Linked DNA regions of Homo sapiens. The protein of the gene in region 4 interacts with the protein of the main gene of each other region in a biochemical or structural test. Each region holds a gene or a part of one and is shown on either strand. Other genes may lie near its edges.

Evidence for each region. The genes of interacting proteins can lie anywhere in the genome.
Region 1: the proteins of SMAD2 (region 4) and DAB2 form a complex in vitro, tested with the Homo sapiens proteins (one study listed by BioGRID).
Region 2: the proteins of SMAD2 (region 4) and NUP214 form a complex in vitro, tested with the Homo sapiens proteins (one study listed by BioGRID).
Region 3: of the proteins of SMAD2 (region 4) and TGFBR1, one has a biochemical effect on the other in vitro, tested with the Homo sapiens proteins (one study listed by BioGRID).

The regions. Positions count from the first base shown.
Region 1 is NC_000005.10:39,379,505-39,384,140, forward strand, and holds part of DAB2 (disabled homolog 2), read right to left. Parts: intron 3,768-4,636; coding exon 3,114-3,767; intron 2,113-3,113; coding exon 1,950-2,112; intron 1-1,949. UniProt on the Homo sapiens protein: Adapter protein that functions as a clathrin-associated sorting protein (CLASP) required for clathrin-mediated endocytosis of selected cargo proteins.
Region 2 is NC_000009.12:131,131,426-131,136,061, forward strand, and holds part of NUP214 (nuclear pore complex protein Nup214), read left to right. Parts: intron 1-1,170; coding exon 1,171-1,234; intron 1,235-1,680; coding exon 1,681-1,784; intron 1,785-3,472; coding exon 3,473-3,579; intron 3,580-4,514; coding exon 4,515-4,581; intron 4,582-4,636. UniProt on the Homo sapiens protein: Part of the nuclear pore complex. Has a critical role in nucleocytoplasmic transport.
Region 3 is NC_000009.12:99,151,743-99,155,168, forward strand, and holds the end of TGFBR1 (TGF-beta receptor type-1 isoform 1 precursor), read left to right. Parts: 3' UTR 1-2,450; downstream 2,451-3,426. UniProt on the Homo sapiens protein: Transmembrane serine/threonine kinase forming with the TGF-beta type II serine/threonine kinase receptor, TGFBR2, the non-promiscuous receptor for the TGF-beta cytokines TGFB1, TGFB2 and TGFB3.
Region 4 is NC_000018.10:47,862,602-47,868,191, forward strand, and holds part of SMAD2 (mothers against decapentaplegic homolog 2), read right to left. Parts: intron 2,533-5,590; coding exon 2,458-2,532; intron 1,501-2,457; coding exon of another isoform or gene 1,439-1,500; exon of another isoform or gene 1-1,438. UniProt on the Homo sapiens protein: Receptor-regulated SMAD (R-SMAD) that is an intracellular signal transducer and transcriptional modulator activated by TGF-beta (transforming growth factor) and activin type 1 receptor kinases.

The sequences.
Region 1 (4,636 bases), on a different chromosome or scaffold from region 4:
CCCAGTATATACTTATACCAGTCTTCATTCCTACCCACCAAATCCCCACATTGTGTTTTAACACATTGAACACATTGAACACATTGACAAAGTAGGGGCAAGGAATAAGGAAAAAGGGGACATGGGTATAGAACATTAATTTTATTACCTTCTGAGGCTAGATTAAAATACAAGCAAGTTGAATCTGAGGGCTCAGCTTTCTACAATACCCTCTCCCCACCCCCCCAGTTCTCCAGGGGAGACAGTCCCCCAGCTGGGTCTAGCGGAAGCCAGACCTACAACCTTCCATGGTTTGGCTGAGGATCCCTGCTAGTGGACAGGGACTATACTGTAGAGCTCAGTTTGAGTCCCATGTCCAAACTTGGAACAATCATCAGTATTCTGCAGTTGTATACCCCAAGCCCTCAACAGGGGCACCTAGCCAAAAAGCTTCACTTCGTCTGAATAAATAAACAGTTATAGGGTCCAGCTGTATTTTCAGGCTGACTTGTTAAATATTGGCTGCAAAAATTCTTAAGGGCATTGATATCAGATAAAAAGCTCTGTGATGTGATCTCGCTGCAGACATTGCATTGCAAGCACTCTGGTCTTCTGTGAGGGAAGGGTACCAACCAGCTCCACTTGGGGGTGCAAGGAAAAGAGCAACGCAGAAAGGGGGAAGCCCCCAAGAGACATGAAGTCTTTAGAGAGAGCCTCTTGATGGGGTAAATGCGAGCAGAGACCTGGGACAAGCTGGCTTTTCATACCCTCACGGATTTCTGCCACTCAGCAGTTGAGTAACAGTCCTCCTCTGGCCACCCTATTCTAGATATGATTAAACAGATTTCTTGTAAAAGAACCAAACTATTTTCCTTTGTAGGAAAACAACAGAGACAGAGAGGAAAACAAAACAAGGATCCTGATGACTGACTGCAGGAGGCAGAGAAAGCCAGGATCCCTGGTCAGATTTTACCGAAGGAGAGGAGAGTCCTTCCTCGTCTACAGTCCTCCACCTCCCAAGCCAGAGTCCATTTGGAGTTTGTAGAGGTGCCAAGAGAAGAAAAATAGAGTCCATAGCAGGACAGCAAAAACTATTGTCAGGGTTTCTGAAAACTGTACCATGGAGTCTGAAAAGAACTATAGGCTATGGACTAAGAATAGCAAGGCCAGCCCTCAGTCAAGTGGACTTTCCCACTGTCCTACCACAGAGTGATCAGCGGCTCACACAAGCTAATGACACATTTAGGAATTAAGAGCGTCAATGCATACTAGCTGTCTGATAAAATTCCATCTCTTCCCTTATTTCTCTCTTTTTTCAACTTTGGCTTTCTAGGACTTATGTTCTAGCTTCAGTAAAACACTCAAGCTAGCCAAAATATTGGCAAGGAGCTCCTATGGCAGAAGTGCTCAGAGACTGATCAGGATGTGTGCCTGATCTACCCTTACCATACACCTAGGAACACAGCTGGGCCCAGAACCTAGGACTTTCACTCTATGACTTATTCTTGCTTCAGACTTAACTTACATCCTTCTTGGGCATATATTCCTTCTAAGAGGGCTATGTGTTGAAAGGACATAGGCCTTCGATCTATTATGGCAAAAGACATGGAAGACATGCATGTTGACAGACAAGCCTCTCTTATGTCAACCCTGTTTTGCTACTGAAGCTGGTCTGAGTTTAGAATCCCTTACAATTGTCTTTCAGGAAACCATGACCAGTTGGTTCAAGTAAGTACAATACTGAAAATGAATTTCTTGTCTCATGCTGCCTCGAGGAGCCAAATGTGAGTTACAAGTCAAGAATATCAAATGGATGTGGGGTTGTATAGTAGAAGTGGGAGAAGGGCTCCCTGGGATGCTCAAATCTTATGCTGTAAAACCCTCTGGGAGTATGAAATCTCTTCCGATGCATCATCATTTTATGAGCAAAAGCAAAAGAGTCATACTTAATTTTATCTCTAGGCACCTACCTAGACCCACCAGGGGCCCCACTGGGGCAGGAGCACTTGTTTTGAAGAGATCCAGAGGGTTGGGCTGCAGGGCTGTAGGTTGTCCTGTGGGTGACGCCTGGCCTGAAGGTTCTGAGACGGGAGGAGCAAAGATGTCTGATGCAAGCAAGTCATTGGCTGAAGACTGACAGGACAGGGAGGGAGGGAGAAGCCTTAGTTACTCACTAACAGTGAAATACAGCCTCATTTTGTCTCCTACCCTATACCCCAATTTGAGAGCCACAAAAAGGAAAACTTTTTTCTTGACAGATGAACAACAACAACTACTACTACAGAAAAAGAGTCCTCCAAAAAAAGACACAGATTCCTACAACGGACGGACTACTGAGTCTTAGTGTCTGACACTACCTAGGACTTGCAAAGTGAAATCTACTATATTCCTTTACACACTCACATTGGTCTGGTCTCATCGCTAAATGCTTGAAGTTGGGGGAGCAAGTGTGTAAAAGGGGCAACTACCAATAAGCATCCTAAATATTTTTGTTCATTCCATTGGATTTTAAGTCAGTCTACATAGAGATCATAGGGTCTTAATCCAGGCAAGCCTGTATATTCTTAGGAGAGGTAAAAAAAGACACCTATGGGAACTGCATTTTAAATTGCTCTTAAATAAAGCTGAGATCATAGTGGTAATAGTAAATACATAAGCTTAGAAAAAGCTTATGTATTTACTCAGTATTTAAAAGAGGAGATAAGCTCGAGAATTTTATACCACCACCATGGACACTGATGCAACATGATGGGTGTGCAGGGCATGTGTTAGTGTCAGGGAAGTACAAAGGGAATCACAAGAACTCTCACCCTCCCAACCCAGAACACGATGATCAAACTTACCAGAGGTATAGAAGCATAGCAGCATTAAAAATGGAAAAACTTGTGTTTAGTTTAATCATAAGTGACAAGACATGCACACGGAAAGCAGGGTGTGAAAAACACTGCTGAGAAGCTTAAAAACGGTGGCAGTTAGAGGAAAGTACTCCTGGAGAACCAAAGTGCCTTATCCCACCTTCTATTTCACAGCAACACAGGAAACTACGAGAGCAGCAGGAAAGAGAGCTTGCATCACACCACCCTTTGGTACCGAACATGCACTCTGCTAATGGATATGTGGAGAAGACAATTCACCTTAGCAGTCCTTCTGCCTCTTCCTGGTTTGGTACTTTGTGGAGGTGGGATAATGGCTATGGAGTCATGTGGTGAGGACTGGACAGAGCTTTCCAAGTCCTGCTTTACGCCATTCTGTATGGACAGTCCTTTGGGAGGGCTTCCCACAAAAGGGTTCGGGGAGGATTTGACAGAGAAGCCGTTCTGTTCTCTTTCAGATACCCCATTTTGAGTTCTCACTGCTGGCTGGGTTTGCGAACTTGAAAAGGGCCATGGGCCTGCCTGAGCTTCCTGTTTGCCAGTCCGGTTAGAGATCTGGTCAAATTGCTGACCAAAGTAGTCAACATCACCATTCAGGGGCCCATTACTCAGCGGAGTAGACGAGCTACTCGAATTCTCTTTCTTCTGATCTGGAGATTTGAGAGAATCAAACGAAGAAGGTGTCGATTGGTCTGGCTGTGTGAAAGGATCGTCACGGAAAGGATCAGGATTAGGGGTGGGAAAGAAGTTGAGATTGGCAGAAAAGGCATTTTCAGGCAAGAAGGATGCCTGAGGCGTTGGTCGAGGAAGAGAACAGGAGGTGATGCCGTTTGTTAAGAATGGATTTTCTCTTAAAGAATTCTGATTGGTGTCGATTTCAGAGTTTAGATCCACTAACAGGATATCTTTGCTTTCCTATCACATTTGGAAAGAAAAAAAAAGAAAGTGTTAGTCCATGTTGTGACTTCAAATGAGAAAATTACATAAGATGACTAGGATTATCAGAATTTCCATTTGAATTTGGTCTTGATAAATCGGTTGATCATTACCTCCTTCCATCAACCCCCGTAGTCCATTACTCCCTAGCTATAGACTAGGTCCTTTCTATTCCTCCCCAATATCATGCCCTTTTATTTAAGTCTCAACCTCATTAGGTGAAATCTTACTGTTGCTTACTTCATGTCTCTGCTCACCCTGGTTCACACATACAGACTGGCTTAATTCATTATGAGCATTGTTTCAATTTGTGACTTTGAAAGTCTTAAAGGGAATTGATTGTGAGTCACTATAAATGATTATCAAAGTATGTTGAGCTTGAAAGTAAGTGATTTCAGAAGCTTAGCTCAGCTTCCTACCTATACACATACAGTCCTCTCTATTGTACCCCCAGAGTCATGTAGGATCATCTCTCTAAATGAGAAAATTCATCGACTAATACATTCATATTTTATAGTTCTGGCTGTGATGAAATTTAAGATCAAATGCATTTCCCTAAAATCGGTCCAGTTCTTTCCTCTAGAGGTGGGAGAGAGGCTTTTCTTTTATATCACGGCCTTCAGGTATGTCTCTTAATATTTAAGGCTCTTGCTGAAGCTGATAGTCAAGTAGGATCTCATCCTCATCATCCCAGTCTCTCCTCTGGGCTTACCCTTTTTGTCTATGTCCTCTGAAAGAGACACTCAATACTGATCTAATTTAGTCAATCACACATTAAGATCTCCTATTTGTACATCTTTTCATAACATTGCTTAGAGTTGCCTGTGTTGTGACAGTAATCTCATCTA
Region 2 (4,636 bases), on a different chromosome or scaffold from region 4:
GGACACGAAGGAGGGATTCACAGGTGGTGCTAAGGCCTTTCTTGTGCCTTCCTCCTCAAGACTGTTCTCTGGCGAGGAGGGGAGCAGAGTGGTGAATGTAGGTGGTATAGGTTTAAGGTTAAGGTTATGTTTCTTATTTGTTATTACCAAAAGTTACCTGAAATTTGGTACATAATCTTTTAGGACACTAACCTGTAAAAAGATAATGCAATTTTTTAAATTTTCTTGCTTTGCTGTTTGCCTTAATTTTTTATTTATTTATTATTATTTTTTTTTGAGAGATGGTCTTGCTCTGTTGCCCAGGCTGGGGTGCAATGGTGTGATAACGTAATGGTTCACTGCAGCCTCAGCCTCCTGGGCTCAGGTGATCCTTCCACTTCAGCCTCCCGGGTAGCTGAGACTACAGGCACTTGCCACCATGCACAGCTAATTTTTGTATTTTTTGTAGAGATAGGGTTTTGCCATGTTGCCCAGGCTGGTCTCAAACTCCTGGGCTCAAGCAGTGTGCCCACCTTGGCCTTCCAAAGTGCTGGGATTACAGACATGAGCCACCTCGCCCAGCCTTATTCCACTATTGATGATTGTCTGCATCAGTGCTAGTGGCGTTGCTGCTGCAAATGGTGTTGCATTGACTACTCTCATTACCTATATCTGAACATGTTCATGCGTTCATGCGTTTCTTTTCTTTTCTTTCTTTTTTTTTTTTTTTTGGAGACCAAGTTTTGCTTTTGTCACCCAGGCTGGAGTGCAATGACGTGATTTCAGCTCACCGCAACCTATGCCTCCTGGGTTCAAGCAGTTCTCCTGCCTCAGCCTCCCGAGTAGCTGGGATTACGGCACCCGCCACCACACCCAGCTATGTATTTTTAGTAGAGACGGGGTTTCGCCATGTTGGCCAGGCTAGTCTCGAACTCCTGACCTCAGGTGATCCACCTGCCTCGGCCTCCCAAAGTGTTGAGATTACAGGCATGAGTCACCACACCCAGCCACGTTCATGGGTTTCTGTAGGATGAAGTCCTGGAAGTAGATAGCACTATTCTGTTTCTTCAGTCTCTCCCGGCCAAGGAGATGGAACAGGTAGCATCTAAGGAATAGATTAGATTTGACAGTTTGATTGGTTTAGGATTTGTTTCATTTGATACTTTATTTTCCCCTCCAAATCTCTTTCAGACTTTGCAGGAAAAAAAAGTCATTCCTTGTCCTCCGTTTTATGAGTCAGATCATCCTGTCAGAGGTAACAACTGCTTTTCTTATTGGGCTGACCTCTAATGACATGTTATGTATATTACAGAAATTCAAAATCATGTAATGTACCTGCTCAGTGAGGTATTGGTGTTTGCTTTATGAATAATGTCACTATTTCAAACAGCTAATTAAGTCAGTGTAAATTATGGCCCTCTGGGTGACATCTGTGTTTCACGATAAATGACATGAAATGGATCCCGACTTTTTATTACAATTCTTCATAATTTGCCCTGATTATAATCCAGCAGAAAAATTACCATTTGGGGATGAGTTTGGGCTTCTTGGGTCATTGTACCTGTGCATTATATTTAGTCAATGAAATCAGGGCCTTTGATTTTTTTTTTATCCATAGTGGCTATTCCAAACATAAGCTGCTTTTTCTTGTATCTGGTTGCTGTCATTTTTATGAGCTACTGATTAAGATGTGTCTTTCAGTTCTGGATGTGCTGTGGATTGGTACCTACGTCTTCGCCATAGTGTATGCTGCTGCAGATGGGACCCTGGAAACGTCTCCAGATGTGGTGATGGCTCTACTACCGGTATGCCTGTGGAAGAAATTTCATTGTTTGAGAATTAGAGAAGTCTTCTAATAAAGCTGGAGGCTTTGATTTCAAGGGGTTTTTTTGTGTTTGTGTTTTTTTTTTTTTTTTTTGAGACAAGATCTCACTCTGTCGCCCAGGCTAGAGTGCAGTGATGCGATCTCACCTCACTGAAGCCTGGACCTCCTGGACTCAAGTGATCCTCCCACCTTAGCCTTCTGAGTAGCTGGTACTACAGGTGCACACCACTATGCCTGGCTAATTTTTTTTTTTTGGTAGAGATGGAGTTTCACCATGTTGCCCAGGCTGGTCTTGAACTCCTGAGCTCAAGTGATCTGCCCACCTAGGCTTCTCAAAGTGCTGGGATTACAGGTGTGCGTCACCGCACCTGGCCTGATTTCAGGTTCTTTTACTTACTGGCAGTGATTATGCAACTTCAGGTATAAGGTTTCCATGCTGCACCATGGGCCAGGGGTCTAAAATTGGAGTGTCCACAGCATGTTCTACTGTTATGAGGTTAAAAAAAAAATGATTTTGCTTAAGCTATAAACTATGAGTCTTGGTTAACTCGATAAATTTTAGAAAAGCAAGACAGTATCTTGATTTTTAAAATTATTTCATTTGCTCTCGAATATTTAATGCCAACAGTGTGCTAGGCACTGCTTTAAAGCTGAGTATATAGCAGTGATCAAGGTGATGGGCTTGCTTTTATGGTTTTAAGTTTGTTGTTGTTGTTAATTTTTATTTATTTTTTAGAGACAGAATCTCACTCTGTTGCCCAGGCTGGCATGTAGTGGTGCGATCACAGCTCACTACAGCCTCAAATTCTTGGGCTTAAGCCATCCTCCTGCCTCAGCCTCCCGAGTAGTTGGGACCACAGGCATGCACCAACACAGCCAGCTGTTTTTAAATTTTTCGCAGAGGTAGGGTCTTGCTTTGTTGCCCACGCTGGTCTCGGACTCCTGGCTTTAAGCAGTTCTCCCGCCTCATCTCTCAGAGCACTAGGATTACAGGTTTGAGCCACCACACCTGGCTGGTCTTACATTTTAATGGGATAGTCAATACTAAATGTGAGATCAAGGACTGATAAGAGTGATGGAGAAAATAAAGCCGTGTTAGGGATAGATGATGACTGGTATGTGTTTGAGATTGTGTGTCAAGGGAGGCCAATTTGATACTTGAAAAAGATGTCTTGTTTTTAACTCTTTTGGATTTCTAATAAGGTTGAGTTTTTGAAATATGTTTATCTAGATGCCTTATTTTAAGATTAGAGGTTTTTTCTATTCTAGGGGATAATATTAACACTAGTATTTATTAACTGCTACTTATGTTTCATGTACTGGGCTGGAAGTTTTGTATGTATCATTTCATTTTACACTTTACAGTAGCCTCTGAAGTAGGCTTAGTAGGTCTAGTATACACATGAGAACACTAAGTATCAGGAAGGTTGAAAAATCTGCATGTCTCGTGGGCAGAAAGTGGCAGAACAGAGTTTAAATGCAGTTCGGTTGATGGCCAATGTTTGTACTCCTTGTACTAAGTGCTGCCTTTATACCATGTCCGTATATCTGGACTTTGAGTAAATATTCTCATATAACTTTAAATGATTTATTATTTGAGATTCTTTTGCTGTGGGATCTGAGAAAAATTGCACATGAGAATTTTTTTTCTTGCTTTGTTCATTGTAGAAAAAAGAAGAAAAGCACCCAGAGATATTTGTGAACTTTATGGAGCCCTGTTATGGCAGCTGCACGGAGAGACAGCATCATTACTACCTCAGTTACATTGAGGAATGGTGAGCAGAGAGTCTGGACAGGGCATTCCTGCTCTCACTGGAAGATCACACCTGAGTCACCTTGTCCCATGTTGAAATCTTTTCTGATTGATTGATTGATGGATTGGCAGGGTCTCACTCCATTACCCAGGCTGGAGTGCAGTGGCACGATTGTAGCTCACAGAAGCCTGGAACTCCCAGGCTCAAGTGATCCTTCCACCTCAGCCTCCCAGATGGGACTACAAGCACATGCCACCACACCTGGCTTATTTTTAAATAAGTTTTTTGGTTTTTGTTTTTTGTTTTTAGAGATGGGATCTTGCTATGTTGCTCAGACTGGCTTCCCAAAGTACTGAGATTACAGGTGTGAGCTACCGCACCCAGCCTGAAATCTTTTCCATTACAGAGGAAAATGGAGGCTGAGATGCCTTGAACATATTTTCAGCTGATTCTTGATAATGTCTTTCTATTATTTCTGTTTCCCCAATCTTGAATTATTTATCTTAAATACATACTAATTTCAAAAATCTAATTTTCTCAATAACCCCTAGTGATGACTTACGAAAATATTGATATTCAAGGAATATATTAAAAGTTTCCTGAGAGCAGAGTTGCCCTTTGGAATGGAGATTACTCAAAGCAAAGCTTCCATCCCTCTAGCTACATTATTCTGCCTTTGGATGGCATATTGATTGTGAACTGTGACTTGATTCTGTTGTGTCTTTCCTTTGTCTTCATGTAGGTAGGCACTGAGCTGATTCTACAGGGCTTTCTCACAGAAACTAAAAAGTTCAGCTTTACATCTAGAATCTTCCCACCTTTGTTCAACCAGATAAAAAACCTTACTCTCTCTTTGACATGTGGAGGCAGCCCTCACAGGTGTTACCTGCAGACCCAGGTTAGCTTAGAACTATTGCTGTATTTGAACGTAATGGTCTCTGGTTTTATTCTTTAAGGGATTTAGTGCTGGCAGCATCTGCGGCTTCAACAGAAGTTAGTATCCTTGCTCGACAAAGTGATCAGGTAAATCTCTTTTTTGTCACTTCTGTGGTGCTTTCTTTTTTAAATTATTATTTTG
Region 3 (3,426 bases), on a different chromosome or scaffold from region 4:
GCTAGGGATGGTTTGATAAACCACAATTGGCTGATATTGAAAATGAAAGAAACTTAAAAGGTGGGATGGATCATGATTACTGTCGATAACTGCAGATAAATTTGATTAGAGTAATAATTTTGTCATTTAAAAACACAGTTGTTTATACTGCCCATCCTAGGATGCTCACCTTCCAAGATTCAACGTGGCTAAAACATCTTCTGGTAAATTGTGCGTCCATATTCATTTTGTCAGTAGCCAGGAGAAATGGGGATGGGGGAAATACGACTTAGTGAGGCATAGACATCCCTGGTCCATCCTTTCTGTCTCCAGCTGTTTCTTGGAACCTGCTCTCCTGCTTGCTGGTCCCTGACGCAGAGACCGTTGCCTCCCCCACAGCCGTTTGACTGAAGGCTGCTCTGGAGACCTAGAGTAAAACGGCTGATGGAAGTTGTGGGACCCACTTCCATTTCCTTCAGTCATTAGAGGTGGAAGGGAGGGGTCTCCAAGTTTGGAGATTGAGCAGATGAGGCTTGGGATGCCCCTGCTTTGACTTCAGCCATGGATGAGGAGTGGGATGGCAGCAAGGTGGCTCCTGTGGCAGTGGAGTTGTGCCAGAAACAGTGGCCAGTTGTATCGCCTATAAGACAGGGTAAGGTCTGAAGAGCTGAGCCTGTAATTCTGCTGTAATAATGATAGTGCTCAAGAAGTGCCTTGAGTTGGTGTACAGTGCCATGGCCATCAAGAATCCCAGATTTCAGGTTTTATTACAAAATGTAAGTGGTCACTTGGCGATTTTGTAGTACATGCATGAGTTACCTTTTTTCTCTATGTCTGAGAACTGTCAGATTAAAACAAGATGGCAAAGAGATCGTTAGAGTGCACAACAAAATCACTATCCCATTAGACACATCATCAAAAGCTTATTTTTATTCTTGCACTGGAAGAATCGTAAGTCAACTGTTTCTTGACCATGGCAGTGTTCTGGCTCCAAATGGTAGTGATTCCAAATAATGGTTCTGTTAACACTTTGGCAGAAAATGCCAGCTCAGATATTTTGAGATACTAAGGATTATCTTTGGACATGTACTGCAGCTTCTTGTCTCTGTTTTGGATTACTGGAATACCCATGGGCCCTCTCAAGAGTGCTGGACTTCTAGGACATTAAGATGATTGTCAGTACATTAAACTTTTCAATCCCATTATGCAATCTTGTTTGTAAATGTAAACTTCTAAAAATATGGTTAATAACATTCAACCTGTTTATTACAACTTAAAAGGAACTTCAGTGAATTTGTTTTTATTTTTTAACAAGATTTGTGAACTGAATATCATGAACCATGTTTTGATACCCCTTTTTCACGTTGTGCCAACGGAATAGGGTGTTTGATATTTCTTCATATGTTAAGGAGATGCTTCAAAATGTCAATTGCTTTAAACTTAAATTACCTCTCAAGAGACCAAGGTACATTTACCTCATTGTGTATATAATGTTTAATATTTGTCAGAGCATTCTCCAGGTTTGCAGTTTTATTTCTATAAAGTATGGGTATTATGTTGCTCAGTTACTCAAATGGTACTGTATTGTTTATATTTGTACCCCAAATAACATCGTCTGTACTTTCTGTTTTCTGTATTGTATTTGTGCAGGATTCTTTAGGCTTTATCAGTGTAATCTCTGCCTTTTAAGATATGTACAGAAAATGTCCATATAAATTTCCATTGAAGTCGAATGATACTGAGAAGCCTGTAAAGAGGAGAAAAAAACATAAGCTGTGTTTCCCCATAAGTTTTTTTAAATTGTATATTGTATTTGTAGTAATATTCCAAAAGAATGTAAATAGGAAATAGAAGAGTGATGCTTATGTTAAGTCCTAACACTACAGTAGAAGAATGGAAGCAGTGCAAATAAATTACATTTTTCCCAAGTGCCAGTGGCATATTTTAAAATAAAGTGTATACGTTGGAATGAGTCATGCCATATGTAGTTGCTGTAGATGGCAACTAGAACCTTTGAGTTACAAGAGTCTTTAGAAGTTTTCTAACCCTGCCTAGTGCAAGTTACAATATTATAGCGTGTTCGGGGAGTGCCCTCCTGTCTGCAGGTGTGTCTCTGTGCCTGGGGGCTTTTCTCCACATGCTTAGGGGTGTGGGTCTTCCATTGGGGCATGATGGACCTGTCTACAGGTGATCTCTGTTGCCTTTGGGTCAGCACATTTGTTAGTCTCCTGGGGGTGAAAACTTGGCTTACAAGAGAACTGGAAAAATGATGAGATGTGGTCCCCAAACCCTTGATTGACTCTGGGGAGGGGCTTTGTGAATAGGATTGCTCTCACATTAAAGATAGTTACTTCAATTTGAAGGCTGGATTTAGGGATTTTTTTTTTTCCTTATAACAAAGACATCACCAGGATATGAAGCTTTTGTTGAAAGTTGGAAAAAAAGTGAAATTAAAGACATTCCCAGACAAATACTAAGACAATTTGTTGCCTATGGACGTCTGCCTTACAAGAAATACTAAATCCTTCACACAGAAAATAAATGACACCAGATGGTAACCTGAATCCACAGGATGAAATGAAGAGCACCAGAAATGGTGGATATATGTACAACTAGCAAAGACTGTATGATTGTATAGCTGCCATAAATTACTACAAATGCCCTGGCTTAAAGCAACACCTATTTATGATCTCAGAATTCCATAATTCAGAAGTCTAGGCATAGCTCAGATGGTTCTCTGCTCCATATTTTAAAAGGTCAAAATGAAGGCATTGGCTGGGCAACATTCTTTTCTGGAGGCTCGGATGAATAGGCTTCCAAGCTCATTGAGGTTGTTGGCAGAATTCAGCTCCATATGGTTGTAAGACAGGTTGGCCAGGGGTGGTTGTCAGTTTCTAGAAGCCACTCAAATTCTTTGGCTCGTGGTTCCCTCCTCCATCATCAAAACCAGCAGCAATGGGTTGAATCATCCTTGCACTTTTCTCGGATCTCCCCTTCTGCCTCATCTCTCCACTGTCTCTTCCACTGCATCTCTCTAATGCTTCTGCTTCCCTCTTCTGCTTTTAAGGGGCCATGTGATTACTCAGGGGGCCATCTGGATAATCCAGGATAATTACCCTATTTAGTAACCTCAGTTTTACCTGCAAAGTGCATTCACTGCAGTACCAAGATTAGTATTTGATTAAATAACTAGAGAATGGGAATCTTGGGGAAATAATTTGCCTACCAAAATAAATGTAAGTTATCTTTCAGTAGCATAAGACTATATAGTAATTACATCACCATACTGTTGGGTTTACAATATAGGTGCAGTGTATATTAATAACAAAGGAGTGGGTAGGAAATGGAACTCTATTGGGACAAAGATGTATCTTATTAGAATTAATTAGTCCTAATTTGAAGATGATTGTAATAAATTGAAATGCATGCTGTAGAGCCTGGAGTAAC
Region 4 (5,590 bases):
TAAACAACTACATTTACAAAGATGCTACTCCCAAACAAGGCCACATTCTGAGGTATTGGAGGTTAGCACCTCATTTTATCTTCTGGGACACAGGCAGATTAAAAAACCCTTTAAGTCTCTTTGTGTATCTTGGACCAAGCACAGTGTATGTAGAAGATACAAAACTGAATTGTGAGTTATGAAATCCACATCTTATGATCTATTATATTCTATTTCTCTATATACCTGTTTGAACAAATATGTTCATAAAAATCATGACTTGAAAAGGGACTGATTATACAATACTACAAAGGTTAATCGAACTTATAAATTTCTTACGATGTCCAGCCTGATCTCTAATATCCACTATAAAGGAAGAATAAAGTCTTGACCAGCAAAATCTAAATCAAAAAAAAAAAGAAAAAAGTAACAAGTGCTTGTTCGTACACTTACTTATTATGCCTAATTTATCCTCTGGTTGCCCTTTTAAAAAATTTCAATTCATTATTTTTAACAGCAGGTTATGAAAGATGAATTTAATTATGTCCTTCCTTCTGGAAGGTATGAACCAGAGTTAGAGAGGTGGCCAACTTTGTTCTAAATTGGAGCCCTGCATCAGTCAGAATTGTTTCTTGCCATGGCCCCAAGAGAGAAACTGATATTGGGTAAGAGGCTGGCAGCCAAACTAACTGTTGGCATCTCATGAATCACATATTCCCATTGCCATACAGTAATTTTTAAACCTGTCATTCAGAAAGCCAGTAACACTGCTCCACTGAAACAGAAATATTAGGTTGGGTTCAAAGTTAGCCCCAACACTGCAATTATTTTAGCTGGCTGATTCAGCTTATTCTCCACTTTTGTACTTTGATTCATTTATCATACATAACGAATACTTGTATTATTGCTCCTCCTGTGTTTCAGTTATATTGCTGAATAGGTGTCTGTGCACTAAATTAGAATCCCTGCAGCCTTTTTTTTCTGGCTTATTTCACTTAACATACTGCTTTCAAGGTCCATCCATGTTGCCACACGTCATGCTATACTGTCATTCCTTTACATGGTTGAATAATTCCATTGCAGAAACATACCTCATTTTATTCATCCATTCATCATTTGATGGACATCTGAGTTGTTTCTAACTTTGAATATTAAGAATAATGCCTGCATAAATGGTCATGTACAAGTTTTTGAGTAGACATGTTTTCAGTTCACTTGGATACATAGCTGGCCACAATATGTTAACTCTGTATTTAACTTTTTGAGGAACAGGAAACTTTTCCAAAGTGTTGAACCATTTAACATTCCTACTAGCGATATATGAGGACTCCAATTTCTCCACATCCTCACCAACATTTGTTATTGTCCTTTTTTGATTATAGCATCTAGTAGGTGTGAGGTAGTATCTCACTGTGGTTTATGACGTTCAGTATCTTTTCCCATCATTCACTTTTAAATGTCACAGTAACAGCTGTCCATCACAGGCAAAAAAGAATATTATTGCTTCAAGAAGAGTGTCATCTAATTTTAGTAAAACATATGTGGAAAGTCAAATATTATTTGCATTAAGATGTATAACACGTTATTTCCAACGTTCATTAGATTATCTACCTTTCTTAGTTATCTGGTACTCCTAAACACCCAAATGTATGATTAGCTACAGCAGAAACTTCTTTACCTGGGAGTCCAAAAAAACGGATTTAAACAAGAGAATTATTGTAACCCCTCCCTCCCCCACCAATGTTAATCCACTTAAAAATAATTTAGATTATCATAACCAAGAATGCATTAGTGTTAAGATGTGGAGAAAGACTGATGGTATAATTTGTCAGGTTGTGATATTAAGGTGTCCAACAGTTAAGATACAGACAGGTAAAATGAATCAAACTGGACAATTACAATGACATCAAAGTGATTTCACTGGTAGTTTATTAGTTCTGCTGAGTTATACATTTTATTACGTAAGACGTGATTTAAAGCTTTAATTTTTTTCTTCATCACTTTTTGGAGTTGATAGCTAAGCATAAGAAATTAATCTACTATAATTCAAAACTCACTATTAGGTTAAAAAAGCAGTGAAAAGCTGATCCCCATCCTTCACCCCCAAATTCCTCTGAAAATCTGTTATTTGAGTAATTATGGTTTTTTATCACAGAGAGATACTTAGTCATAGGGTTACTAAAATTTTCAACAGAAGCAAATACTTAAAAAGAAATAAAAGTATGTGCATGTTTTCAAATTTTCATTTACTCTAATAAAAAATAACAATTATTCTGCAGAGTAGCATACGTTATAATTTTTCAGTGACAACATGGACCTCTTTGGTAGTTCAGATATGTTAAATCAAGATAGAAGATCATCTTTTTTGGTATGCGTCTCAACTTCTCTAAATTTAAGAGTAACATCTTTTGTGAATTTCAAACAATACAAGAAATGTATATCTAATAACTGAGGAATTTTCAAAGACATTTTTTTTACCTGTGTCCATACTTTGATTCAACTGTTGGTCACTTGTTTCTCCATCTTCACTGATATATCCAGGAGGTGGCGTTTCTACAAAAGTTTAAAACAAATCAAGCACAGCTGCAACATAATCTCACTACCTTTTCTCTCAGCTACCAGAGATAACCAATGAATCACTCCAAATAACAAATAATAATGTTATATAATATTATAAAAAGTAATATTGCATACTGAGGGTGTATAATTCAGGATCTTGTCCAAATTTTGCAGTGAATCCTTAACATCCACTTTTAATAAAATCCTACTCTCTGGACATACACATTATGTACGTATCTTGCTCATTCCTATATGTACATATTCTGGGGCAAGAGCCAAAAACGTAACTTTAAAAATGCCTCAGATCTGAATCAGTAGGCTGCAAAACCATCAGTAACTACAATTTTTTGTTGTTGTTGTTTAATCTAATGAACATCGTTATTTTATGAGTACTTAGAAAATTAAAAAACACACAAGATTTTGGATTATAAAAGTATTAAATAATACAGGCTTACAACTTACACTAAGTTCTATAGGGTAAAATATGGTAGAGTATGGTTCCGGATTGGTCCAGGCTGAATTCTATCTAAAAAGTGTGTTTCTCCAAGGATTCCTAACTGGTAAAGTCTAAGTGTTTGAAGCAGAAAATTCAATTCAAATATAGACTACTGTATAAAGAGGTAAAATGCTCCCTGAAAATAACCATTAGGATTCTAATATATTATTTCCAACATGTTGTCTGAATAAAACACTTATGTTCAGAAAGGTATCTGAATAGCTGAATAAACTGCATGTAAAATAAAAACATGTATACAATTTAATCAACTGTAATTCCAGGGAGGAAAAATAAGTTCAGAAGACTTTCATCAGTTTTACATTTACACTGAACAGTTTTGAGCGATTCAAGATAACAAAGACACATATCCAAACAATTTTAAAATTATCAAAAGAACGAGGCCAGGCGCGGTGGCTTATGCCTGTAATCCCAGCACTTTGGGAGGCCGAGGCAGGCAGATCACCTGAGGTGGGGAGTTCGAGACCAGCCTGACAAACATGGAGAAACCCCATCTCTACTAAAAACACAAAATTAGCCGGGCATGGTGGTGCATCCCTATAATTCCAGTTACTAGGGAGGCTGAGGCAGGAGAATCATTTGAACCCAGGAGGTGGAGGCTGCGGTGAGCCGAGATCACACCATTGTACTCCAGCCTGGGCAACAAGAGCAAAACACCGTCTCAAAAAAAAAAAAAAAAAAAAAAAAAGAGGAAGAGAAGATACAGGTTAAGGGTCTCCTTCAATAACCTTTTACAATATCTATTCAATAAACTAACCACAAACTTTAAGTATCAAACTTTTCATTTAAGTGTCAGTACCCCCAAATTTTTAAAACAAAAATTCTAAGAATAAATTATCTTCATATACTCAAAGAACATAAAAATAAGGGTACATATTATGCATATTTTAAAAGTTAAAGCTAATAAAGTTAAACGGCGCTAAGCTTTTTGAGTTTAACCTGTATTTCAAAGATCTAATCAGAAAGAAATGCTGAACCTTAAAATACGTTATCTTACTGTGTTTATTTTTTCCATTATTGTAATAAATAATAAAGCTATTAGCATTTTTGAGAAAATGTTAAAATTTCTTTTAAGTGGAATAAAATGTGAACCCTTTGGTTTTGCTGTTGCTTGAAACCGGATAAAGCCCCACTGTCCAGAAAAGCAAATGGGTATAATCCACTTCTGATTTTCTACTTTATAAAATACTCAAATCTCAATAATTAAAGGAATAAAAAAGAAAGGAAAAATGAGCCCAAACATCTTCACAAGTGAAAGCCACTAAACATTCTGGTGAATAGCCTTCCAAATAATTACTGGATATGCGTGTTGTCCCTAAGACTGCATGTTTATACCTAAGGTTAGTATTGCTGGCTGAATAACAGTAATTCCCACACTAACGACTTAAAATGCCTCCCCTTCCCCACACCAACGTTCACACAACTCCACTCCCTTTTCTACCTAGCAATTGCCCTGTTTCATAGTCCCGGGTTTTCCCTCCTCCTAGTGTTATCATACTACATCCCACCCTCTCCCTCTCTTAACTTCAGTAAGTTTGTATTTCCTAGCAACCCATAAAGCAGCTTTAAATCCTCTTCTGGAATAAAACAGTAATCAAAGAAATATACATTAAAACAATCAAAAACCACTTCCCATTTGTAAAACCAGCTATTTAAAAAAAAAACTTATCTTTCTTAGTTATCTTTTCTTTTTTTTCTTCCTTACATTTAAAAAATTATCTTCAATGAATAAGCATTATTTCCATGATGGATACATGAAAGAAATAATTGTTTAAATGTACTAAAACTGTATTTTAAGAATTTTGTAAATGCTCTTAAGTTCCTTACATATTTTTAGTGTATAAAATAAGAGTGGAATAAAAGAATATTACAAAAGGAAGAAAGAAATCGAGACACTACAGCTTAATCCTCATCCTAACATCATGCTGTTTCTGCTAGGGAGAAAAATCAACCAAACAAAAAGGAAAACATACAAGAAAAGTAACAAAGTATTAGTTGTTCTCCAAAAAAAAAAAAAAGAAACCATAAAAAACGAAAAGGCCAGATATCATATCGTGGAGTATTACTGGATCACATAATACATCAGAACAAAATTTGAGAACCATGTAGCTGAATTCAATTTTCATCAGAAATTACTGAGATGCAGACGAAACATAATTAAAGGAGGTTTTCTGACGTTCGTGTTATAATATGTAAGTGTTGCTATGTCTATAGAACTAAGTATTATATTTCTTATAGAAATGTTATATTTCTGTTAAATATTACCAAGTTATCTAAGAAAAAGTGATCATTGGGTGGATATTCAGTTACATGTGTTTGGGGGGTACTTTTCTCCTACACCATTTGTTTTGCTTACATTCTGCATCTCGCTTAGCTTCAACAACTAAGACAAACTTACTAAGATCTTTTCTTTTCTGCTTCTCACAGTACTTTGATTAAAGTCACTGCAAAAGAAAATGAAATATAAAGTAAAACTCTTCTCCAAACAAAACTGTTTAATGTACTAGGCTTATACATTTCACAAAATAATCACCCAAC